Homo sapiens: one gene and its partners. Each later gene encodes a partner of the first gene's protein in a complex. Each region holds a gene or a part of one and is shown on either strand. Other genes may lie near its edges.

Region 1 (7,036 bases):
CCAATTTGTTTCACCAACATCAGGAACGTGGCCAGTGTGTGGTCCATGAAAAGGTCTACACATAGGTTTCTTCTCTCTTGCTCTCTTTTCTAGGGGTGTAGACCAACGTGCACTTGGTTCATGGCACATTATCACCACTGGTCCACACAGTGCCCCCTCATCTTATTTGTTACCTTTCTCAAGAGAATAGAGGAATGGGGTCCATAAACTTTGAGATATGTTTCCAGTTGAACCAACAGACCCAACCACCTACATTAATGGTGTTGGAATACTACTCATCAGTAAAAAGTAGAGCTGGCCTGTGAGTGTTCTGGTCAACTAAAGGTATCTGGCTCTCTTTGTCTGCAAATAAATAGCAAGTCTCCCTACTTCTTTTTAAATAAAATTCCAAATGTACGTAACATGTAAAACAATGCCACTGCATGAACATGTACATAACTGTACTATTCTTTTTTTAAATTCTCAGCCTGGAAATTACATTTCAAGTACTAGAATATTCAACAAATCCTAAGACTTTTATGAAGACCATGAGAAGAAAATAAGGTACTAGAACAAAAGTGATGCAGCCAGCCAATTCTCGTTTCATGTCTCAAGACCCAGTTCTTATTATTATAGATCCCTTTGTGGGGTTAGCTTGGATTTTACTGCGGGATCCATCACCAAAGGTTATTAACTATTCCTTAACACCTGGTACACAAACCCCTCTTTCTGAGACTGCTTTGACAAAAATAAACAAAAAAGTGTGAAATAAATCAAGATTTGACTGACCATCCTAGGTCTACCCAACTGCTAGCTGAATGACTTTCAAAACGTCTTTAAATTCTTAAGGACTCAATTTCTTCCTCCGTAAAATGCAGATAGTAACTGTTTTGGGCATTTTAACTTAACAGCAATAACAAAAACTACAGGAAGATAAGTAATTATTGACCCCATTGTATCACATGGATCCCCTGGCAATTAAAAAAAAAGATGAATGAGATATTAAGAAATAAAAAGGAAAACAGAGTAAAGACAAAACAGAAATAAAGAAGGAAACCCAAAAGGAAAGAAAATGGCACATAAGCACTAAATGGTAGCATTTTATCATTATTTTATTTATAGTCTACACTAACTGTGTGCTCTTCCATACAAAAGATGCATCTAAAAACTAACTTGTTTGATAAATGGGGGGAGGACAAGGTGCCTCTAAGATAGGTGTGCTTAAATCCAGAGCAGCCGTAGCTTTTATCAAATTCTCTTCCAACCTGAAAAATCTAACGATTCTATGAAATAACTTCAATTTGTGAAAGCCCAAGCAAAAGAAATTCAAAGTTAAAAAAAAAAAAAAAAGAAAATGTGACTTTGACTCAGGTCAGTCAAGTATTACCAGGATAGATAAAAGTAGATTTTTAGCAATACAGTTAACAATGGGTCTTGCCACAATAATAGCAAACATCCAGATATTGGAAAGGAATCAGATGGTAAATTTAAAAAAGACTGTTTTCAATCCTTATATTTGGCTTCACATAGATTCAGTGTATTTTAATTCATTTTTTTTTAAAAAGCATGGATCAGTTAAGGAAATAATATAAGTTCATTCTGATCTTTAGGAAGACATTCTTCCCCCCATATTGTTCACTTTGACAATTTCTCTTTTTTCTTATTTGGCCAAAATATAACGTATTCTCTAAACAAAACACAGATGTTTCCTTTGCAGCTTTTATACAAATCTCTTGCTTTTCCAACATGATTTGGCAACTCAAAATCCAAAGCACCCTAGAAAATATTATGTTTACACGTCTTATTATTCATCTTTGTGTCTCCAATATAGTTTCAATTTGACTATACCTTTCAGTGTATAGGGAACCACTCAGCTTGAATCTTTTAGGTTCAAAAATTCCATAAATTTTAAATGAGGCAAGTAAAAGGAGGTGGAGAAGCTCATAACTCCATTTCTTATGGCTTTAACAATAAAAGAACGTACCTGGTATGTACTTAAAAATGTACTATGTGCCACAAAGCTCCCCCACTCAACAATCTCCCTCCTGACACAGTCTACCCTCAAAATAAAGTCAACTACTCCTCATCTCTCTGCTTCCACTTCCTTCCAATTCACAAATACATTGTTAATTTCCTCTTTGCATTTCAGAGAGCAGTTTATCAGCACAGGATAGTCTTTAACAAAATTGTTGTGAGTGAAGATAGGGTAATTAAAAAAAAAATCATGTTAAGAACTGTTAATAGTCAAGAGTTGTAACTTTTCAACCAGGAAGAGCTATGGTTCTGAATTTGCTACAACTGCTCCTTGAAGTGGACAAACATAACTAGCCTTGGGAACACTCAGTTTAAGACCATGACAAGCTATTTCAATGAATTATATAAAGAAACATAGTTGCTTTCACTGCCTCAAATAACACCGCAGTAATTCTGTGATACACTTCAGAAGAGTTAGCACTGGAGGGAAAAGAGCCTGTGCGGCAGCCCTTGGTGACTACATTTCCCTCCAGCGCAATGCAGGTAGCAGGACATCAGCGCTTTGAGAACTAGCATAAGCTGCTGCAGAATCATCGACTGGCAACAATGTGCCTTCCCAGAGAGCCTGGTCTTGGAGAATCCAGGCTATGAGGCTTGCAAATGCTGCATGAGTTTTATGGCTACCAGGTTGGGAGCAAGGTTTTTTAACGGCTTCCTGAATGTCAGATGGCAACTGGTTTTTTCTTCAAACAATGGCATATTCTTTAAGAAAATCAAATTATCAATGAAATTTGCCATGTGACCACAGGCAAGTTAACTATTCTTGCATTTTTCAGACTAGGTTTCCTTATCTCTAAACTAGAGAAAATGATACCTACATGTCACAGGGGAACTGGAAGGATTAAAAGACAAAATGTGTGTAAAGCTTCCAGCACAATGTCTGGCACAAAACGGTTGCCCCAAAAAGTTCAATACTCTTCCTTTCCCTGCTCCCCCTCCCAACAAAACAGGAAAAGGCAACAGCCAAGTAACTAAACAACTTCTTAATATTCCAAGTTTCTACCCAATCATCTCTTCTTCTTTTAAAACCACAGGCTTGAAATCTTTACTGTTTACTGTCAACAACGGCATATACTGCTGTACAGTCAGAATTTTAGAATTTAGAAATCAAATATAACCCCCTTATTCAACAGATGCTGCCGGGGGAGATAAAAGGGCTTTCCTTTTATCTGTATCATCTTGATTTAGTAGCAGAACCTAAACTCGAAAAATAAACGTGGAATAACAGGAATACTATTTTTTAACATGTTTTTCAAAAATCAAACCTGAGCCTACATAACCCATTGTGCAAACAGTCCCTTTAGGAGAAAAACTGCAACTGTGATTAATTTCTCTCAAGAATATTTATTTCCCATTTGGAGAGTTTCACATGTTTCCAAACATATTTTCTTGATGTCCTCCATGTCATTGTGTATTCTCTCCTTCCCTTAATTTGTTTCTTTTCCAGTGTATAAATCTATTGCTCTATTATAGATTATTATAATATAAACTCATAAATTCAGGAATTTAAAAAAAATCTTTAAAAGCATGCTTCTCAGAAATCATTACACTCTGTTAAACACTTGCTATCTCTCAACTTCTAGATAGATTCCTCAAGAGAGAAGTCCTTTTTTCATTCTGAACTTCTAATTCTCAAATTTTGATTGTGTCCTGTTAGTTACCAAACACACCATTATACTACTACTCTCATTTCAATATTGTACATAAACGATTCCCCATCTTACTAATGAAATGCTTTTTTAAAGCAGTAACATATTTAACATGTGCACATGTTATGAAGAGTATAGGCAAACTCAACTATTAAAAACATGTAACTATAAGGAAAGCCATCTTAGACACTATATGTGACTACAGCTAAGCTTTTCTCTTAAGTATCTAAAGCAAATCACCAGACTTTTACATAGTACCCTCACATAGCTAGATAAGAAAGTAAAAGTAAAATAATGAAAGCAGACTCTAAACAGCAGAAGCTCCAAACTCCTTAGTTTCTCTGTTGTGCTCAATCCTTTAGCAAATTACAGGCCTGAAAACAAGGAGTAGCTCTATCACTTAACAAGTGACTAAGGAATGACTTTGTTAATTAGAAGTCCAAGGGTGAGAGGCTCCTTTCCACCAAAGCTCTGAATAAACATCAACATCAGGTCAACCAGAGTTGTCTTGGTCCCAGGAGTAGCTTAAGCGGATGACTCAAATTCCCAGCAGAATTCTAGTTTAATATTTATTGGAACTCCGAGCTTAGTCACACAGTGACTTGGAATTTAAGACACATGGGGTCTCTTCTTTCCATCCTTAAAGATATTTTTGCTAAGTGACACAAAGTTAAAGAGGCAAGATGGGTTTTAATTTAGAGTTTTTATTCCCTGAGGTGTAAGAAATTAAAATTTTATTTTCTGGGGAGAGTGAACCATACTAGCTCTGAATTTCAAACACAACTATTAACCCTGTCAGATAATTCTATTATCAAGTTTTACAAAACTGTTTACTATTATTATTTTTTTTTGCTACCCCAGCCCTATGTATTGAAAGTGGAAAGAAGGAAGGGAGGGAAGGAGGGAAGGAGAGAGGGAGAATGGATGAATGGATGTATGTCACAATCACCTTTCTAGCCAAAACTGCAACATATGCTGGAGTTCTTGAAATTATTTCAACCAAAAAAAGAATCACAGGACTCATAATTTGTTTAGCAGGTAATTATTTGCCCCATTATCTTCAAGAACAATCTATCTTAAAACTGTGTATAGCTTTTTAAGAAATCTTAATACTAAGAGGATCCTTTTTTTCATAACCCCAAAGAGTGTTTTCTTCCTCTATTTTTGAATTGCCAGCCTTCTCAATTCTTTAAATCTGATTCACATTATACTACTTTTAGAGTTCTAGGCTAAATGTTTATCCATAGCATGATTCAAGGTATTAATTTCAACAAAATACTAATATAATGATAAAATGTATCACATTTATTTTCAACTCTTTCCTATTCTTCTGATTTAAGAACTTAAAGAAAAATATTTTATGTTTCGGGTGCATTTTGATAAGCTAAAATACCACAACTTTTGTAATTCTTCATTTGTAATATTTGCAAGATAGTGTAGGGATCAATTTGAATTTCAAGGTTCATGATATAGAGTATGTACCATAACAGTGAGAAAAGTTAGTATAAATTCCTACTCATCTCAGTTTCTATATTTATTGCAACAAATTAAAACTGCATTTCATAACTCGTAGTAAAACAAAAGGAAAGTTCTGTTTTAAATAAACTCCAACCTTCAGAATCCTATACATTCAGTATCCATCAACCTGAACACTAAATTTCAAGAAAAAACAACAGATGGGCATCCATATAATAGTTTGCAAAGAAACCCTGATAAGACTTCAGGAGTTTCTGTGGTCTCTATTTTCCCCCTACCATGAATCATAGGTAATGTGCTTAAATAAAGCATTATTTCTGCAGTTATTTACATGTTTATCTTTATCAGAGATCCTATAAAAGAATTATCCAGTTCACCACCCAAACTTTAGCACTCAGAACACGGTTTTCCCTGTTGATGAAGACCCTTGTAAAATTCCAGATCTTAAAAGATTAAAGAAAATGTGATCTAATATTAATTCATTTTCCTCCAAAGTATAACTCCTGATTCCATGCTGGTACCCAATTTTGATCCTCTACTTTAAAGATATCTCAGAGACATTCAAAACAAAGTGTGAACATGCACAAAAGGGGAACTTGTCGTTTCTCTCCCTCAAACAACCACTATTTATATAATATTGCTGGCCTCCTAAAAGAGAATAGAATCCATTACCATCAGCAATTCATGTCTCTGCTTCAGCATCAGATGCAAACAGGATACAGAAACTAGATCTCTCTCCTCCATTTACTTTTTGTTCATTCCAACCTCTCGACATAATCTTCAGTTCCATTCCAATGGCCTGTTTCACCATCTGACACTCCTGGTTTTTACCTTCTCAAGTCTTAGTGGCCATAGTGGTGTTACATTTCTCTAATTGTTGTGTTATCTAAATACTACAGGATGAGCCTGCTCATTCCCCCTCCCCCAAAAGTCCCTGAAAAAACTACAACTTAAGGAAATGCAACTTGAACCTTTTTAGTTCACAGATTCAAACTCATATCCTGCAAGACCCTAGCATATCTTGTTGAAAATTTTCTTTGACTTTTCAACAGTAGTCAAGATTATTTTAATGAAAATATTTCTCCAGTTGGAAGACATGGGTATACAGGACTTTGCTAGAACGGCAAATGCTTTTTCCCAGTCTTCATCCGTGTAACAGTAAATCGTTATTAAACAAACACACAGAACAAAACCCACTCTGATTGTGTATCAATCACCTGAAGGGGCAGAAGGGAAAAGTACAAGAGTGAAGAAACTTCTCCCCACCCACAGCCAAGAAGGAACGCTGCAACTAAGGCAGTTTTTCATGGAAGAAAATATCCAAAGATCTAGACAGTGTTTATTTTAGAAAAGGGGAAGAGAGCAAGGGAGGGAGGGAAATGGTAGGGAAGGGACTACCATTTCCTCTTACTAACCTACATTAAAAACTAATTGTATCAAGCAATCTCAAATGCGAAAAGCAAAACTGACCCTAGCACAATTTAAAGTGAATAATGTTTTCCTTGACAAAAATTCGGTATTTTAAACTCATTCTGAGCAAAATTATCTTTTAACCTGATACACCAAACTATTACTGCTTTTCCCAAACAACAGTTAGAACATGAGCTTTTGAGTTTCTTACATTCTTTACGTTTTAAAATTAAAAGCCAAATTCCTTTAACCTCATATATCCTAAGCCACTCTGATTTAAAATTACTTCTATGTCATTGTCTTCTAGCATTGGTCTGCAATAGAATCTGTGCAATTAACAATAATCTTCTTCCCTCTGATCTTTCTAGAGTCAAGGATGGCATATCTCCTTATCTTATTTGTTCCATTAGATTGGCATATTTTGCCTCATCTGTCACCTTCTATCAAACTCTGCTTTCAGATATGCGTTAATTCATTTTTAGTTGTCC
Region 2 (3,555 bases), on another chromosome or scaffold:
CGAGGCTGGCGGATCACCTGAGGTCAGGAGTTCAAGACCAGCCTCAACATGGAGAAACCCCGTCTCTACTAAAAATACAAAATTAGCCGGGCGTGGTGGTGCATGTCTGTAATCCCAGCTACTCAGGAGGCTGAGGCAGGAGAATTGCTTGAACCTGGGAGGGGGAGGTTGCGGTGAGCCGAGATCTCCCGCCATTGCGCTCCAGCCTGGGCAACAAGAGCGAAACTCCGTCTCAAAAAAAAAAAAAAAAGGTGCTGTGGTATACACCGGTGCTTCTCACACTTTAATGTGCATACGGATCACCTGGGATCCTATAAAAAGGCAGATTGATTTAGTAGGTCTGGGTAGTGCTGGGATTATCCAGTTCCAACAAAGTCGCAGGAGATGCCGTGCTGCTAGTCTGGACCACACTTACCTACTCTCTCCTAGACCCTTCACTAGAGACAGGATGTAAGCTAGGAAACTATGTACAGTCCAATTCAATAACCAAGAAAAAAGAAGAAAAACAAGGCAAGTGTTCCATTAGAAGCTGAAGTTTTATTATAGGATAACAGTACATAAAGCACATCTAAAATTGATGTGTTCAATGCACTTTTAATAAAGGTAATGTAATATTAAAGGTACAGTTTCTAAGTACAATATAACAACATTCATATTAGAATGAAAATTGGAGTATTTAAAAGACAACATTAAATCTCTCTTTTTTGTACAGCTTGTATTTACAAAATGAATCAAAATATTTTTTTTTTAAATTCAGGACTCAATAAAATAAACAGCTGGAAATAAGCAGACTAGTGTAAGAGTGAATTGAAAAGAAAACCCAAGGTAAGTGAAAAGTTGGACGATCCTCTAATAAAGATCATTAGCAAAGTTTTAGTTCAATACTAGTTTTAGGATTCCCATAAATGGCTTGCATTTTTAGTGTGGCAGAAAAGGAGTTTTTACATACTGTACACAAAACAGACAGCATATATTTATAGGTACAGTATTACTGTTTCCAAACTTGCATGTATATTTACAGAAGGCTGAGTTTGTTTACTCAAACAGAAGTTTGTGAAATTTGTGTGCTTAATCCTCAAGACCTACACACAATTAGAATCAGCATTTCATGTGGTCTTTTTAAATGTGGCTTTAATACTTGGTTGTAGAGGAGAATGTTAACCGTAAGGCTTGGCTTACTTTGTAAATTTAACAAAACAACCCAGGAAAAACGTTTTAATTGGGGCACACTTGTTATCATTTAACAATTGTCAAATGCTGACATGTGCTAGCCATTGTGCAGACGCAAAAAGATACAATCTCTACCCTCAGGAAGCTTAGGATGCTAAATCGTGCTTTAAAAAAAAGGTTTCAATCTCTTTCCAAGAGAGGCAGTTAAGGAATGATGTGATTTATATTAAAAGAGATTTCTCCCTCAACTGTAGCCAATCCACTTTAAAAGGTTAACTACTAGCATTAGCTCTCATTAACCACACAATTGCATTTATAATTAAGGTAACAGCAACTCTTCCACAAAAATGGAAAATGTCTAGAATTGTGGATAAATATTGCAGTGCATGGAAGCCAATAATCATGGCTTGAGAATTTATCACCTTCAGTTACAAAAAGTGCAGTAAACAGAAACATTTGCTCTACATTTATAAATTGCTCAAAAATCTTTGCTAAAGATCTTACAAATTCAGTAATATTACAGAACAATTCTAATCAATATTTAATAAGGTTAACTACATCCTTAGTTAGATATTTGATAAACTTTGCTTTTCAATAATGCCAGTAGATCTTGGGAGAATGGGTAGAAAGGCTTAATTAAGCTACTTATTAAATAACTTTGAAAATGAAGGTCCTTCACTCAGTTCATGGAACTGGTTGAGGTCATACTGAAACAGAACATCCCATGTCGAATTTGCTTTATGGCCCATGTTATGGCAGAGGACGTCTCCATCCTTCTCATGACTCAGGTAGGAGGGGAAAGGTTTATTCTGCCATCAAGCCATCTAGGATATTTTATGTAAATGCCCATTATCTATAATAGGAGCTAAGAATACAACTGTGTTAGGTGCCAGTAATACAATTCCTTAATAAGAAAAAAAAGTATATTACTCCATTAAACAAGTTTCTTTAGGATCTTGAAGGCCTGGCAAATTATTTTTCAGCTTAGGAGATATGCTGTAAAGCCAAGTAGCAAACATAAAGTAAATGCTAATAAGTTTCCATATAGCCATATTTATAAACAAATTCACCCTATAGATGTCAAATATCCATACTAAGGAAGTAATTTTATCCTAATTAAATACACTCTAGAATAATTTATATAATGATATTATGTATTTAAAGAGAAAAGCATGTCCCAAATCCAGCACTCTGATACAGCTGCCAGTTGGGCATAGGTAGATATATATATATATGTATATATATACAAATATATAGTTATACTCAGTGAAATTAACAAGACCCAAAGGTGGTATTGTCTAGGAATAAAAGGGATAATTTTTGTTGTTCACAAAAGTAACTTGTCTAGCACCACACATCAGAAAAACACAAAAATAGCACACTCTAGTTCTAAACAGCTATGTCTAAAATAGATTATATAGTAAAACCGGTATTATACAGCATATTGTGGATTTGATAAACAGATAAATATTTGCACTGAGTAGGCTGTTTATAATATAACATTTTCTTATCTATACAGAATGAAAGCCAAAAAGTTAACTGTATAGAGATGTGCAGAACAACATTAAATATTATGACTCAAAAGCAGGGACAGGTAAATTTGAAAGAAGAGTAAGAGAGAAAATGTTTACAGGCCGTTACAAGTTCTTAAGTTAATAGTAAATAAGGAATCGATTGCTCAAGTTGAAGAAAGCAGTAAACAAGAGATTGCATTTACATGCAGATGTCTAAAATTTGTATTTTTTAAGTCTATGCACAAAAGTCATTTGTTTTATTGCTTGACATTCAGTTATGGCTAGATTATTTAACCTATTTTTTTTGTACTTTGGAAACAAGAATATTGTTAAAGGTGCCATAAAAATGGACAACACTGAAAACAGTTTGCAAATAAACCACCTAACACTGCAGTTCTTTATACATATTAAAAGCCTTGTCTGGGGTTTGTCATATGTTAAATATTATTTAAAGTGGGAAAATATGTTGTAGCTTGAAGCCTCCCATTGGCCCAAACATCCAATACAAAAACACATCTCCACAAAAGGAGCAGGCAGACAATACAGGTACATTTATAGAAGCAGCCAGCTAATGTCCTAATGTTTAAAAATTTACCACTGTTTAATATGAGATTTCAAACTGTGTGGATAACAGGAGAATTTTGGATTCAGGAAGATGTATACAGTACATATGGATTTTTTTTGTGAAATCATTTTCACTATATTGCTCAAGAATTATCTGCATTTACATATGCAATCTGTTCAGTGATAATCAAGTTCCTAGAAATAGTATTCATCCACATTAAAGTAATAATGATGAAAAAGGAATCACACATGAACACTGGAGAGAATTTAGTTGTTCTTAGAGAACAACATAATGGCATGTGCAACA
Region 3 (7,060 bases), on another chromosome or scaffold:
CAAGGCAATGCAAATCAAAACCATGAGACACCGGCTCGGGCAACATAGTGAGATCCCATCTCTACAAAAGAATACAAAAATTAGCTGGTGTGGTGGCATGCACCTGTTGTCCCAGCCACTTGGGAGGCTGAGGTGGGAGGATTGCTTTAGCCCAGGAATTCGAGGCTGCAGTGAACTATGATTGCACCACTGCACTCCAGCCTGGGTGAGAGAGCAATACCTTGTCTCAAAACAAACAAACAAACAAAACCCCATGAGATATCACTTCATACCCTTTAGGTTGGCTAAAATAAAAAAGACTATAACAAGTGTTGACAAGGATGTGGAAAAACTGGAACCCTGACACATTGCTGGTGGGATTGTAAAATGGTGTGCCCACTTTGGAAAACAGACTGGCAGTTCCTCAAAAACACCGAGTTACCTTATGATCCTGCAGTTCTGTCCCTAGGTATATACTCAAGAGAAATAAAAATATATGTCCACAAGTAACCTTGTACATGAATGCTCACAGCAGCATTATTCATAATAGCCCATAAAAGTAGAAACAACCTAAATATTCATCAATTCATGGGATGAATAAACAAAATGTGGTATATGTGTATAATGGAATATTGACCATAAAAAGGAATGAAATATTAATATAAGCTATAACATGGATGAGCCTCACAAATACTATGCTAAGTGAAAGAAGAAAGTCACAAAGGACTTCATATTCTATGATTCTATTTATATGAATTGTCCAGAATAGGTAAATCTATAGAGAAAGAATATCTCTATCTAGAGTTGGTGGAATGACTGTTAATGGAGAGGGGGTTCCTTTTTGGAGTGATGAAAATGTTCTAAGGGTAGATTTGGTGATGATGGCACAACTCTGTCAATAAACTAAAACTCATTGAACTGTACATTTTATTTATTTATTTTTGAGATGGAGTCTTGCTCTGGGGCTGAAGTGCAGTGGCGCAATCTCGGCTTGTAACCTCTGCCTCCCAGGGTCAAGCGATTCTACTGCCTCAGCCCCCCGAGTAGCTGAGATTACAGGCACGTGCCACCACGCCCAGCTAATTTTTGTATTTCTTAGTAGAGATGGAGTTTCACCATGTTGGCCAGGCTGGTCTTGAACTCCCGGCCTCAAGTGATCCACCTGCCTCGGCCTCCCAAAGTGCTGGGATTACAGGCGTGAGCTGCCATACCCGGCCTGAATTGTACATTTTACTTCTATGGTATTTACATTTTAGATTATATTAATTATTCCTCAATAAAGCTGTGATTTTAAAAAGCAGGCTAGGCGCAGTGGCTGGTGCCTATAATCCCAGCACTTTGGAAAGCTGAGGCAGGAGGATCACTTGAGCCCAGGAGTTTCAGACTAGTCTAGGCAACATGTCAAGACACAGTCTCTACTAAACAATTAAAATTAAAAAAAAAAATTAGCCAGGCATGGTGGTGTGCACCTGTAGTCCCAGCTACTTGGGAGCCTGGGGTGGGAGGATTCCTTGAGCCCGGGAAGTCGAGGCTGAAGTGAGCCGTGATTGCGCCACAGCACTCCAGCCTGGGCGACACAGCAACACCCTGTCTCATGGAAGAAAGAAAGAAAAGAAAGGAAGAAAGAAAAAAAAAAAGCAGATTGGAACTCTGGAATTAACAAGAAGTAGGACGCACGGAGCACTTCCGCCTGAGTGGAGACTGTGGATCCGGGTCAACCTGACTACCTAAATCACAGGCCAATAAATGGTCTTTCAGTGGTCAGTCCCTGTAAGATCCGTGGCTCTCAGCTTCTTATCTTAGGGGCTGTGGAGGAAGGACATGATTATGTTGATTTAAGCGCTGAATATTTTCCCTTGTGATACCCATCCTCGCAAAACTTTGCTTCAACCACAAACGAGGACCTTCTGTACCAGAGGGGCAATAACCACAATGAAGCTAGGAAGAAATGCAGAGCACCCCAGCATACAGTCCATAAGCTTCCTGAAGTGGGGGGCCTCAGGCATCGCTGCCTCCCCAAAGAGGATCAGGCCCAGAACAGTATGCTCCAGAAATAAGACTGGAAAAAGGGAAAGAGGGGCCTCAAGTCCAGGAGACCAGCGGCTTTCTGAACGCGCACCTGCCAACCCACTTTGGACAGGTCACGATGGACAGCGTGGCAGGAAAAGAAAAGGTCACTGTCTACCCAACACATGAGAAACTGTTTCTCGTGCCTCACGTCCCCACTCCGTCCCCACCCATGTTGTCTGAGTCCCTCGGTGTCAGAAACACTGCTAAGAAATTTAAGAAATTCTGTTAATGAGTTTAAGAAATGTTTTTAATGATTAAAAGTCAGTGACTTGTGAATAACCATGTAACTTACAAACGCAAGGAACTCTGAAAGTGTGCAGCACCACCGATCAGAAGAGAAAACCAAGGGACCCGAAATATGCTTTAATTAAATTTTCTTTTAAAATGTCACTGGAAAGAACATCTTGGGAAGACGGCCTGGCCGATCGCCGTGTGAAGGGCAAGCCACTCTGGCCGAGAGGGAGCCCCACACCTCGGTCTCCCCAGACCGGCCCTGGCCGGGGGCATCCCCCTAAACTTCGGATCCCTCCTCGGAAATGGGACCCTCTCTGGGCCGCCTCCCAGCGGTGGTGGCGAGGAGCAAACGACACCAGGTAGCCTGCCGCGGGGCAGAGAGTGGACGCGGGAAAGCCGGTGGCTCCCGCCGTGGGCCCTACTGTGCGCGGGCGGCGGCCGAGCCCGGGCCGCTCCCTCCCAGTCGCGCGCCGCCGCCCCCGCCCCCGCCCCCGCCCCCGCCCCCACCCCCACCCCCACCCCCACCCCCAGCCGGCGCCCGCGCCCGCCCCCGCGCCGGGCCCGGCTCGGCCCGACCCGGCTCCGCCGCGGGCAGGCGGGGCCCAGCGCACTCGGAGCCCGAGCCCGAGCCGCAGCCGCCGCCTGGGGCGCTTGGGTCGGCCTCGAGGACACCGGAGAGGGGCGCCACGCCGCCGTGGCCGCAGGTCAGAGTACGGGTGCCCGCGGCGCTCGGGAACCGGCTGCTGGCTGGGCGGGGAGTGCTCAGGGAGGGGGCGCGGAGGGCTGGGGCCGAGGGTCTGGGGGCTAGGGCCGAGGAAACGGGAACTGACGGGGTCCCAGACGGATGAGAGCTGGGGAGAAGGGGGTCTCGGCTGAGGGGTCCGGGGCTGAGGCAGGGTCATGGTCCGGCAGGACCCGGACTGACGGGTCGCGGGCGGGCGGCTCACGGGTGACCGGGTGAAGGGGTCTTGGGCTGAGGGCACCCGGGCTGAGGGTCGCGTCTACCGGAGCGCGCACTAGGGGCGGAGGGCGCGGGCACAGAGAGCCGCGGCCGGTGCCGACTCGAGTGGACGCGAGCCGGTGCGTCCCGGCTTCCAGGACAGCCCCCCTCGGGAGAGCGCCGGGTGGGCGCGGAGCCGGGGACACGGGGACCTCCGCGTCCCCGGCGGAGGTGCGCAAGCGTCGGGAGCCGCTCCGGGGGAACTTTGGAGCAGGGTGTCTGGACCCGGGGAAGCGAAGATCCGCGTGCGTCCGTCCTGAGGCCGCGCGGCACCCCTGCTGAGGAGGAGGTCCCGTTCGCTGTCCAGAGCCCAGGGGCGACCGCCGCTTGGGGACCGGGGGACCGTTCAGCGAGGGGCGCGCTTGTAGCTGGCCAGGCCCTGTGCCCTGACGCGTTGTGCTGGCCCTACGCCCGGCGGAGGGGCTGGGGACGGGGACTGGGTGCCTCCGTGCCTCCGCGGATGGAGCGCGCAGCCAGGACCCCCAGCCGCACCCCGGGGGGCTGGAAAGGCGAAGTCGCTGCTTTGTGGGCTCCTGCAAGTGCCAGGCGCTGACCACTCCTCCTGGGAGCCTAACTGAGGGGGGTAGAGGCAGCAGAGGTTAACAGAAATCTCAGGTCCCTTGGTGGAAGGTGGGTGTGTAGTCGTGGTACTTTACGCCTCGGTGTTTAGGGAGGAGCCTAAGGTAAGGAGTCAGAAACGGGGAGTAACCGAGCTGCGGCTTTTATATAAGGTCAGTGGTAGGTAAGGAAGGGGCCTTAACCTCTGCTGGTGACCAGAAGCCTGCATTTCTGCATTCTGCTTAATTCCCTTTCCTTAGGTGAGTTGGCTCACTCTCATTGCATTTTGTTGGAATGTGTTGGTGATAGGTCCGAAATTTGCAAAATTATTGTATTATCCTTATATCATTTTTTTTTGCAGTGCTCTTGTTTTATAAGAAGAATCCAATTCACTTGGGTCATAGGCTAACGGTTGTAAAAATAGTGTCATTGTTATAAAAGAAATCAAGTCAAAAATAGTCGTCTGCCATGAAGAAACTAAAATTTTTCTTCTTTTCCTTGCAAGATTAGGGACAAAATGTAAAGTTTATTTGTGTAAATTATCATTTGGATATAAAACCAGACAATGATAAACTGAGTTGTATAATACCTATTCCTGGAAAACCTCTGATTTTGAAGTACATTATTTTAACCCCAACTGTTTCTGTCATTCGTGAGACAAATTGTTAACTGGATTTATTAAGAGAACAATGAATAACTTAACTCTTTAAAAGGACCTGGGCAAATCTTCGACAGGTTTCAGGTATTTTATGGCAGTCTTTCTGTCTATTGCTAAGTGATCGATTGCTGACTGAGAACAGAACCAACTGATGGTGCTAGATGATTTAGAAAACCTTTCTGGTATAGGGACTGGCATGGACATTCACTGTGGCTTTTCTCTTAAAGAAATACCTTTCACTCCTAGGGGAGTTTGACAGAAGACACTCATAGATGCTACCAGTTAGCATTTGGAGTAATATATCAAAACATTCTGTTCAAGTTTTAAAGTAAGTTTTGTGTAGTATATTTTCAATCAGATTCACTTTGGAATCAAATACACTTTATTTGATTCCAAATAAAGTGTATTTGAATATTCACTTTAATATACGAAACTTTAAAGGTAATGTCTCAGCCAAAAAGTGAAGTGTATTACAAAACTGTCCATTTTTGTCTTCTTGTGTACTTCACATAATTTTTCTCCCTGATTTAAATTATATGATATTTGATAGTTAACTTGCTAATAATTATGTCTTAAGAGATCTTTGAATCAACTGGTGGCCATCTCAGTCTTTTAAAACTCACTTGAAGGAAAAGAGAAACACTAATGATGGTTTTTTTTAAAATCAAAAACTTTTTTCATATTTACAAGTTTGTTTCTAGTTCTTAAACAATAACTGCTGTAAAACCATGGCATCAGTGAGGTATAAAGTTTTGTAGAATCCCAGGCTGAAGACTTTTTGGATGTCGTTTTCTCATTTCTTTACATTAAAAAGAATATAATTTCTTTTTAAAATTAAAACTAAAATGTCCACCGGCCTCATATTCTTTATTGAACTTAAGTGCTTTGAAAATATTTTTGCGATTGATATTTTTAATGATAAAATATAATATTTTCTTTGAAGGACTAGTTTCCTAAATGTTCATTTTTTTGTATGTTTCAGAACTACTTTTAAAAAAATTCTAGATTATGCTTTAAATTGCAATATTTCTAAATTCCTATGACATTTAAAATGTGTACAAGAGAAAAGGTGTGACATGAGGAATATGAATTAGAAGTGGATTACTAATGGTCGTAGTGAATTGTTTTTAATCAGTGTTATATAAATATAAACAAATACTTTTTTCTTCTGTAATTTTCTGACAATAAGGATGTTAGCCACTAACCTTAATTATCAAGATAATTATGTGCATGAAAGCTGTGTAAAAGGCACAACCGTGGAACATATACAAGTATTAATAATACATTTCATTTAGTTTTCAGGTTATAAAATCGTTATTAATAACAAGAGGCTTTCATGAAGTAGGAAAATATGTTAAAATGACATTTTCTGAATGTTTCACACATTCTGGCCCACACTTTCACTTCTTTCCTAGCATCTATATATTCCCAATGCATAGGACAGAGTTGGTCATTCTAATTGTGGGTGTCTTTCTGCTGGATTCGTTGTCACTTGGACTTGGAAATACAGTATGTCATTAGGTGTGGCAAATGTACTGGAAGAAGTTTTTGGTCTCATAGGATTCCACTAAATAAATATTAGCTGTAGAGGATTTTTAAAAACTCACTAATAGAGAAAACTTGGTGAAGTCACTAGTGTGTAAGCGTAAACATATGCACCCCCCACAACTGAATTTCTAATTTGCTTATTTTTCCTGGTAGATCTCCACTTTGCTTACTCTCTCTTAATATCCCAAAGCAACAAAAAGCGCAGTGATTTTAATTGCTTACAAAGGTCCTTTGAAACGGATCTAATTTGACTCCACAAAAGAATAGTAAGAGTTGTGAACAACCATCTTGCAAGTGTAGATATCCCCAGCGTATCAACTTCAGTTAGTTTCATAGCGTTCTAAATCAAAAATTTAGATTTAAGATTATTTGAAATCTTCTTGGAAGTTCTTACTTACTGTTTGCGTTTTCTCAAAATACAGAGGTAGATTGGGGGAGTAATATAGTATATGTTTTAAAGCTGTTATTTAACTAAAATGTCATGTTTTAAATTTTATTTAATGCACTTAAAGTAGGTTCTTGGGATAAAATCTATTCAGATGCAATAGGCCATGTTTTGGGGAAAACTTTTGTAGATGTTTAGATAATATCTGTCATCAATAATAGTATATGTTTAAATTATTTTGTAAAAACAGATTTACATATTTTTAAAATTTCTCTTCAACAATAAGTACACATCAATATTTTAATGCCGAGAATTTCATTCAGAGTATGACTGTTTACATTTTCAACTGTTTCAATTATTATGGCTTAGGCAAGTACCTTATCCTTTCTCTCAATTTTGTCATCTTTGAAACGGAGAAAGTGTTGCAGTTATTATTGCTTGCTCTTTTGCTATGATTTTAAGGCTTTATGAGCAAACCCATGTACTTTAAATGATGTGACCATGACCCTGAATTTAATTGAGCTGATATTCTGAAAAGAACCTTCATGAATATCTATGTCATAGCTAACTCTTTTACCAATGTTAATAGTTCACTGTAGTTCAAACCTCAATAACTTTGAGATTGTTA
Region 4 (7,783 bases), on another chromosome or scaffold:
ATGTGAGCTCCAAGTCTAGAGTTTAAGTATTCTTACTTGAAAAAATAAACTTAAAGTGTCTGTTCAGAGTTCTCAAATAATATCACATCTAAAGTGACTTGGCCAAGCTCTTATCATTCCCTAAAAAAAAGGCATCCCCTCTGATCTCGGCTTTTTTGTTGTTGTTACTGTTACTGTATAAATTTTTTCTTTCTGCCTATTTTATCACCTATAATTTGACATTATGGAATTACTTTGGGATTGTCTTGTTTTTTAATTAGTATAGATTTTAAAAAGAAGAGATGAGAAAAAGAAAAAACATGAAAACCCTGAAACAGAAAGAGTGAAACATACAAAATAAAACTTGTGTAGCTCCAAACACGAATCTTAAAACACGAAACTTAAATTTTCAATGTCTGGACTTCAGTGATCAGGCTGAAATTTACTAAACTGTTCCCTCCTCGCCTTGTCTGTTTTGGAGTGTTTCAGTTGCCTTTCCTTCTTCCAACAGCTGTGACAACTGTTAAAACAGTCAGTAAAATTAAGTCCGCTCTATAATCCTGTAGTCAATGTTACATTTTAATCAGAGGTTGAAAGGGATTCATGTGATGAGCACACTCATTTAGAATGATTAGACTGACACATATGTCAAAATGAGCAGATATATTATTTTCATCTATTTATGCTATCAGCTATTACTGCTATTAAATGTGAAACAAGCTTTCAAGTATTATGTTCTTTAATGTGCTGGCACATTTCCTAAAATAAAAAAATACATAGTTAGAGGTTAACATTTTAAGCTCTCTTAATGGTGGTCAATAAATGGTATGAATCTTTTTAACAGCCTCCAAAGCAGAAACTGTCCAATATTTGCCCCTAAAACTGTATAACTCTGGTTTCATTTCTGTGTATACACACACGTGATGGGGTTTAACCCGGTACAATTACTATGAATATTAATAGCATGTATAAATTCTGTGGTTTATTAATTGAGACAGAGAGGCAGATGCGTTGCTTAGCGTTAGATCTTTCTGTCTGTCCAGTGAACCACGTAACCATCAGAACTGCATCCAGACAATAAATCTGTATTTTTTAAAGATGACTTTTAATTGAGCCCAAAAGAAAGCTAGTTTGAATCTTGCGCCAAAGCCAAAAGGACATGTGCCTTGACTTCATTTAAATGCATCTGCTTTAAGAGGCTTATCTAAACGAATTATTCAAATTAGCTATAAGAAGTTAAATTCAAGGAAACTACTTCAAAAAGAAGCCTCTGGGGGATTTTTAAAGTTTGTTTTCTTTATTTATTTACAAGAGAAAGTTCAGAATCTGGGCGTGCTTGGATAAGACATTCTTCCTGACACGAAGACGTCTTAAACTCTCCAATTCTACAGCCCGAAGTACACTAACCTTCAAACTACACTTGAGCGGGCAGTCTTACCTTTGTTTATTTTTCATTTTTATTTTTACACATCTTAAGGTTGTTTCTTCCCTTGAGTGTTTCAAACTGATGCAAGCACAGCCTTATAATCTTTCAGTTCCTCCTAAATCCATCTCTTGGCTAATATTCCCTGTGTGAGCATGGATGTGGGTGGATGTGCATGTGTGAGCGTGCATACACACACACACTCACACTCACGCTCAAACATACAGGAGCAGCCACTGAGACTGCAAGTCACTTTTCATCTCTTACTTAATTACAAAGCAATGCAATATGCAGTCACTAAGGACAGCTAGTGGACATCTACCTATAATGCACTACCTCATCTTCTAGAGTTTGATATTTTCTTCACAATCTATAGAGAGAAATGTTTGCCAAGGGCACTCTTTTCAGAATTATAACAGTTGGTATTACTGTAATGTGAAAGCAAAGCAATATAACTGACTCAACAGAAAGGGAGATAAACCAGTGACAGCTCTCGTGATATACTAACATTTTATCTTAACAGTAGGTTGAAATTAAGTTTATCACCTACTCATTTACACAAAAATGCCTAACTTACTTCTCGTACCCCCTACTCACTCCCCCCCCTTTAGTAATCTAAATATATATTTCCATGTGCATAAAGATATCCATAAATACTAATTAAACTGCTTGTAAGAACGAAAGTACTTTTCTATATTTTCTGGACACAACAAACGAGACAAATCCACACTCTGAGCAGTATTTAAGGGGAAAATTTTAAAGTCACTACTGTTTCTTCTTTAGTTTTTTTTCCCCCCTTAAATATTTATAATGTGTGAAAATCTCATGTTACTTAATGGACTGATTTGTCAGTTAAGTGCTGACTTAACGCTAACCATGCAAATAACATTATTCTAGCTCAGAATTGCATAGGGCTAGCTTTTAAATTGTTCTCTGAAGGAGAATTAGTAAATGTGCAATTTTGCCTCTAACTCTGCGCGGTAAGAAATGACAAGGAGCTGAAAATATCTGTCAAACTGCAAATACATAAGAGGCCCTCAATAGTATAAATCATTTTGAATATTGTATTTTAAAACATCTTTCCTTGGGAAAATGGGTCCTAGTAAAAGATGCATTTTAACAGTTCACTAAGCATTTGTGCCAAGTGCCTATTCTTAGCACCTGAATAAGAAGTGACTGTCACACAGCTGTTTTACTGACAGTCACTGAGCTTTGCCTCAAAGGTAACATTGTAGTCAGAGAACAATTCTCGACTTACTGAATTAGGAGATCACCCTCAACACAAAAGACACAAGACAGACACAAACAAGCAGTCGTGCACACAAAATACCCAGGGCATTACCTGAATCAGTGTGTAAAGATATAGTCTGTCCGCCCCCACCCCCGCACCCCCACGACGAGTTTAAAAAGGAAAGAAAAAAGGTACCTACTCTTCCTCGTAGTGCAGGGAAAAAGATTCAGGAAGGCAAAGTTCTACCGAATCCATGTGCGACCGGCAACCATTATTTGTGCACCCCAGCTATAAATCAAAGTTTCCTTGACAGAGCACAGTGCAATTAACACAAATGTTCTCCTAGTGACAAGCCTATAGGCACAGCCAGTTGGGACCAAAGCTCTCACACTCTCCTAATCAAGGACTTAAAGCCCCGATTGGAGCTTATTAATATGAAGTAGGGCTTTACATATGCAGTCCCACCGGCCCAGCCGCGCAGCCGATTGGGGGGCCTCTGCCCAATCAGGAGGGAGGCGACGGGAGGCTGCACGGAGCGAGAGGAGCCAGGCAGGTAGGCAGGGTGCAGAGAGCCGAAGGGGGCTGGAAACTGAGAGTGGGCAGAGAAAAAGGGAGCGGAGAAGGGAGCGATTGAAACGCTCCCAATACACACTCTCGGGTTTGATTTTTTTTCCTCCCTTCTCTCTCTTTCTTTTTTTTTTCTTCTGGGAAGCTACAAAAGAAACATAACTAACTTAACTCTCTAAGCACTGGAGGGATTTGCCTTTGATTTCTAACCTAAGATCTCTTTTGCCTTGAAAAGGAGAACTCACGCAGACTCTCAGTTAATTTGGGAAAGGATTCTGCGGAAGGTAGAGAATTAAGTTTGTCCTGCCGTTGTCTGTGTTTTTATTACACCGGGGGCCGCGGCTTATTTGGTGCTGTACTTTCTCATGTATTCCTAATCATGTCTTTTCCTGTTTTCCTGATGTATGCTGGGCATTAAAAATAATAATAATAAAGGCATTCTTCTAAATTGTTTGAGCATGTGAACTGGGATCGTCATCTCTGAGGTGGAATGCAGTTTTACACAACTACAGAAGAGGAGATAGTGACAATACAATTTGAAAGAATGCCTAAGTAAATTATATGTGTAAACCTTTCTATACCTGCGACTGTCTCTTTACATATAGATACAACGCATAGCTTTTCAAAACAACGGTAAACAGCCGCAGGACAAATTGGCTTCTTCAGTTTTAGGGGTGGGGAGTCTGAGGGCTGTGGGGGTAAATAGCGAATTAAATCTCTCTCGATGCATTTTGACAAAATAAAGACAGCATTTTTTTTTTTTTTTGTAGGGAGAGCATTACTAAACAGTGCACTAAAAGTATTCTTAATTATATGTATATATTTCAATACAAGCTTCCAAACTAGGAGGCATATAATTTTATATATGATTTTACCCAAAACATCCTGCTTTCAAATAAAACACAGTGTACACATTTGTTTCTATACATAAGGCACCCTATATGCTTTAAAAAAATCAACCCAGAAACATTTTATAAACCATCACACAGTCTGGTCACTATAAGAACTAGTTTCAAACAGATAATAATTTACAAAACTAAGAATTCTCAATCAAAAGTGTTCAAAAAAATAAAAATAAAAGGAGGATATAAGAGGACAAGTGTGTTTTTTCCTCCTTCAATTGTGTACACCGTGTCTTTAATTTCCATATAACAAAGAGTTTGCTTAGGTCCTATTTTAATCTACAGGATTTTTTTATACTAGCAAATGTACATTGGAATAGATACCAGCTATTTATGGCAAAGAGATAACTGCTACCTTATGGAGAGTGAAAAACCCACAATTTTGATATAATTCAGCTCTACTGCTTATCAACCTTTTACATCTTAAGTCCTACATGATAGAAATAGTATAATCTTTGAGATCAAAATAAATTAGTTCAGATATTCATCGTATGTTAAATTCACTAAATTAGGACTCAACTCCCTTAACCCTCTCAAATTTTCTAGGTCTTTAAAAAACCAAAACACTAAAATAGAGCAGCCACATTAAAATTCAGAATATAAAAATGACAGACATGATTTGGTCCCCCCACAGAAGAAAGCAATTTCACTGCCTTGTATTTAGCTATATCTAAGATATAGGCCTAATTCCTTTTATTTGTGTTCTAAATGCATACAAAGTTTCTAGATCAGAACTCACATAGCAAAAACTGTGCCTCAGAATACTGTATAAAAGCAGGTAGTAAAAGCTTAATTACCAGTAGCATTATGCTGTCTATATTGTTAAATGTGAACTCTGCAATTAAGATGTAAATTTGGTTGTGAGCAGTGAATTAAAAGAGCTTTGAGATGTAGAAGAAAATCCAAGCATTCTGCAGACACTGAGAGAAAAAAAAAATTGTCTATTCAATCTAAAATAAGACACGTAATCATTTTACAATTAAAAAATAAATAAAACAGGCATTTTGCAAAAGAAACATGATTTTTCTAAAATACACTCAAAGAAATATGGAAGCTAATACTGCATTACAAAGACAGAAAAACATCCTTTGATTCATATGATTACTATCGTGATTTCTGAATAAACTAAAATTCTCAGGGTAATTAATAGATTCAATTGCACATACTTTAAAAAAGATACACACACACACAAAAAAGAAAGAAACTTTCCTTCTTGGTTTGGCTATGGATATTTCTTTAAAAAATATAAATTATTTAATGTACTCAATGCATCTTAATGTACTCAAAGAATGCATTCCGATTTTGCACCGGTGCAGAATCCTGTACTGTGTTCAGTTTCTTTACATTATGCTGTGACAGAACCTCTTTATTACTCCTTTGAAATGGCTTTTTAAAGACAAGATTTGTAGTGTATTTACCGGTGGATCTCAAGTCACCAAATGTCGTACAAGTGATCTTTAATTTCCCATCATTTTCTTATTTCCCTTTGGGTACTTATTTGCCCTCATTATGATCCATTTGACTTCACTGGTGTATATTTTTAAAGATATTTAGACTCATGCGTAAGTCATTGTTCTGTGCTCACAGAGATACATGTACAAACATACATAGTGTCATCCCCACTGATTTTTCACTAACCATATTTCATCTACGCAAGGTGCAGTGTTCACTGAACTCGCTGCTTTCTGAGTGACCAGATGTGTACTAGGTTTGTAGACTTGGATATTTTCCCCTTGGGATCAAAGTATCACCTGTACAAGTCAAGGACCTAAAGACTGTACTTACTGTCTTGAATCCAGTTTAACCAATTTAAAATTTTTAAAAATCCTCTTCACTAAACTTGTGAGACAGCTTCCAGAATATTTTACAAATACACAGCTCAGTCATCTCAAGAAACTTCCCTGGTCCCAGATTTTTCTCACCTTGCAGGAGAAAACAATGGATAATCATGGGAAATAAATGTGCCATGAGTAATACTGAGCTTAAACCTTCAAGAATCTCAATTACAAAAAAAATCTGGAAAAACAAATAAACAAACAAACAGATAAACAGCCTAGGATACACATATATTCCCAGTCTATACACTTCACAATCTTACCACAAGGAGTCTACCCAAATCAAGAAAAACTGAACCAAACAAAAGGATCTCTCATGATTGCTTCACAAAGAATATTAATAAATTAGTTAATATCAGTCTATTATGCATCAGGCTCTTGGTGTATGCATAGTTTCAATCTCTTCTTCCTTAAACAATGCAGTCATAAATATCCAAACAAATTCATTCTCAGTCCCCAACTAATGCACAGTCACCAAGCAGAGAATATACTTCATTTCTATTTCAAAGAACAGAATGAAAACAAGCAAAGCTCAAGTGGAAACAACAGGAAGATTCCTCTAGTCATATACACCAGACATTTTATTACATTTAAGTCAGAATCATTTCTTGCAACATTCTAACTAGGAATTCTTATGTTGCTAGAAGGTGATGAGAAATGCTTAGTCTTGCTGTTATTGCATATTAATAGCTATTTTTAGCTCCTATCTTTCTTTTCTGAAAATTAACAGGACTAACCTTCATTAAAATGTTCAAGTTTATCACTGTCATTTTTGAAGCAGGTTTTTATTTTATATTACACATTCATCATTTACTAAATATGTAAAACTAAACAAGGCATAACAAATTTAGATTTTCAAATTGCCTAGTAATCTTTCCTCAGGATTATAAAATCTTTGAAAAGCTGTTTAACTTTTTGAACTATTTTCCCTGCTGTTTTAAATGTATCATATATAGTATAATATACCATCCTGCAAAAAGCAAACCAAGACAATTACAAACTACTATCTTTAACTCCAAAAGACAACCTTGGGAAAAGAACCTAAAATGAGAAGCAAGGCACCAGGCTCCCTTCTACTCCTCATGAGCTGTGTGGCCATGGGTAGGTTGCCTCACTTATCTGTCCCTCATTTCCTCATCTGAAAATTGGGGTTTCTTTTGTGCTATAAACCTGCTTAAGAACACACCTTTCCCACTGAGAACACGCAGACTTCTTTCGAAGTCAGGATGACTACTTTACACTATATTACCACCAGCCCTCTATCAATTCATCATTCCTCATTTTCTGTTGCCTTTCATTTCTAGGGCACAGGCTTTGATATTTAAATTATTGTCTCGATTGGCAAGAAGCAATCATTTCTGCTGAAAGTGATCGCTTCCACAGAAGCACTAATAAAAACCCTTCCTTTTGACAAACCTCTTGTCCTATAAATCCATCCCATTCCCAAATTATGGAGCCTATATATAAAAAAAAGCCCATTCTCTGGGGAGCAACTGTCTCACCGACATAACACACTAAACTCTTTTCCCACTGTTTGTGAAAGTTGGAGGGGGAAAAAAAAAGAATCAGAGAAAGACAGAAACTAATAGAGGCAATTCAGTTTCTGTTTAATTAATTCAGGATTATTTCACCTTCGTTTTGTCAAACTAATAATACACATGGTGAAATGTCAGTAAAAATTAAATTATAAACTACAGTAGCTCCAATGGGAAAACTGACCTTAGTTAGGTTGTATTTCCATCATACTTACCCTGGTAAGATACCAAATGCATTTTACAGTATCCTACAAGCTTTCTATAATCTGCATGGCATGTATTTACAGAGCAATAGTTAACGTTTTGAGATT

What was found.
Region 2: the proteins of NRIP1 (region 1) and RORA are in contact, whole or in part, in a crystal structure (PDB 4S15), measured with the Homo sapiens proteins. Residues at the interface, in NP_001426204.1 of Homo sapiens: Thr499, Leu500, Leu501, Gln502, Leu504, Leu505, His507; in NP_599023.1 of Homo sapiens: Gln332, Val335, Lys339, Phe344, Met345, Gln349, Gln352, Ile353, Leu356, Pro505, Leu506, Glu509, Leu510.
Region 3: the proteins of NRIP1 (region 1) and PPARG are in contact, whole or in part, in a crystal structure (PDB 9CWN), measured with the Homo sapiens proteins. Residues at the interface, in NP_001426204.1 of Homo sapiens: Ser130, Thr131, Leu132, Leu133, Ala134, Leu136, Leu137, Ser139; in NP_056953.2 of Homo sapiens: Val321, Gln322, Thr325, Lys329, Phe334, Leu339, Gln342, Val343, Leu346, Lys347, Pro495, Leu496, Glu499, Ile500, Lys502.
Region 4: the proteins of NRIP1 (region 1) and ESRRG are in contact, whole or in part, in a crystal structure (PDB 2GPP), measured with the Homo sapiens proteins. Residues at the interface, in NP_001426204.1 of Homo sapiens: Ser378, Leu379, Leu380, Leu381, Leu383, Leu384, Lys385, Ser386, Gln387; in NP_001429.2 of Homo sapiens: Val277, Ile280, Lys284, Phe289, Leu294, Gln297, Met298, Leu301, Gln302, Lys448, Leu449, Glu452, Met453.

The regions. Positions count from the first base shown.
Region 1 is NC_000021.9:15,054,979-15,062,014, forward strand, and holds part of NRIP1 (nuclear receptor-interacting protein 1), read right to left. Parts: intron 1-7,036. UniProt on the Homo sapiens protein: Modulates transcriptional activation by steroid receptors such as NR3C1, NR3C2 and ESR1. Also modulates transcriptional repression by nuclear hormone receptors.
Region 2 is NC_000015.10:60,487,767-60,491,321, forward strand, and holds the end of RORA (nuclear receptor ROR-alpha), read right to left. Parts: 3' UTR 518-3,555; downstream 1-517. UniProt on the Homo sapiens protein: Nuclear receptor that binds DNA as a monomer to ROR response elements (RORE) containing a single core motif half-site 5'-AGGTCA-3' preceded by a short A-T-rich sequence.
Region 3 is NC_000003.12:12,285,034-12,292,093, forward strand, and holds the start of PPARG (peroxisome proliferator-activated receptor gamma), read left to right. Parts: upstream 1-4,036; 5' UTR 4,037-4,101; intron 4,102-7,060. UniProt on the Homo sapiens protein: Nuclear receptor that binds peroxisome proliferators such as hypolipidemic drugs and fatty acids.
Region 4 is NC_000001.11:216,720,412-216,728,194, forward strand, and holds the start of ESRRG (estrogen-related receptor gamma), read right to left. Parts: upstream 3,019-7,783; 5' UTR 2,889-3,018; coding exon 2,833-2,888; exon of another isoform or gene 2,829-2,832; intron 1-2,828. UniProt on the Homo sapiens protein: Orphan receptor that acts as a transcription activator in the absence of bound ligand. Binds specifically to an estrogen response element and activates reporter genes controlled by estrogen response elements.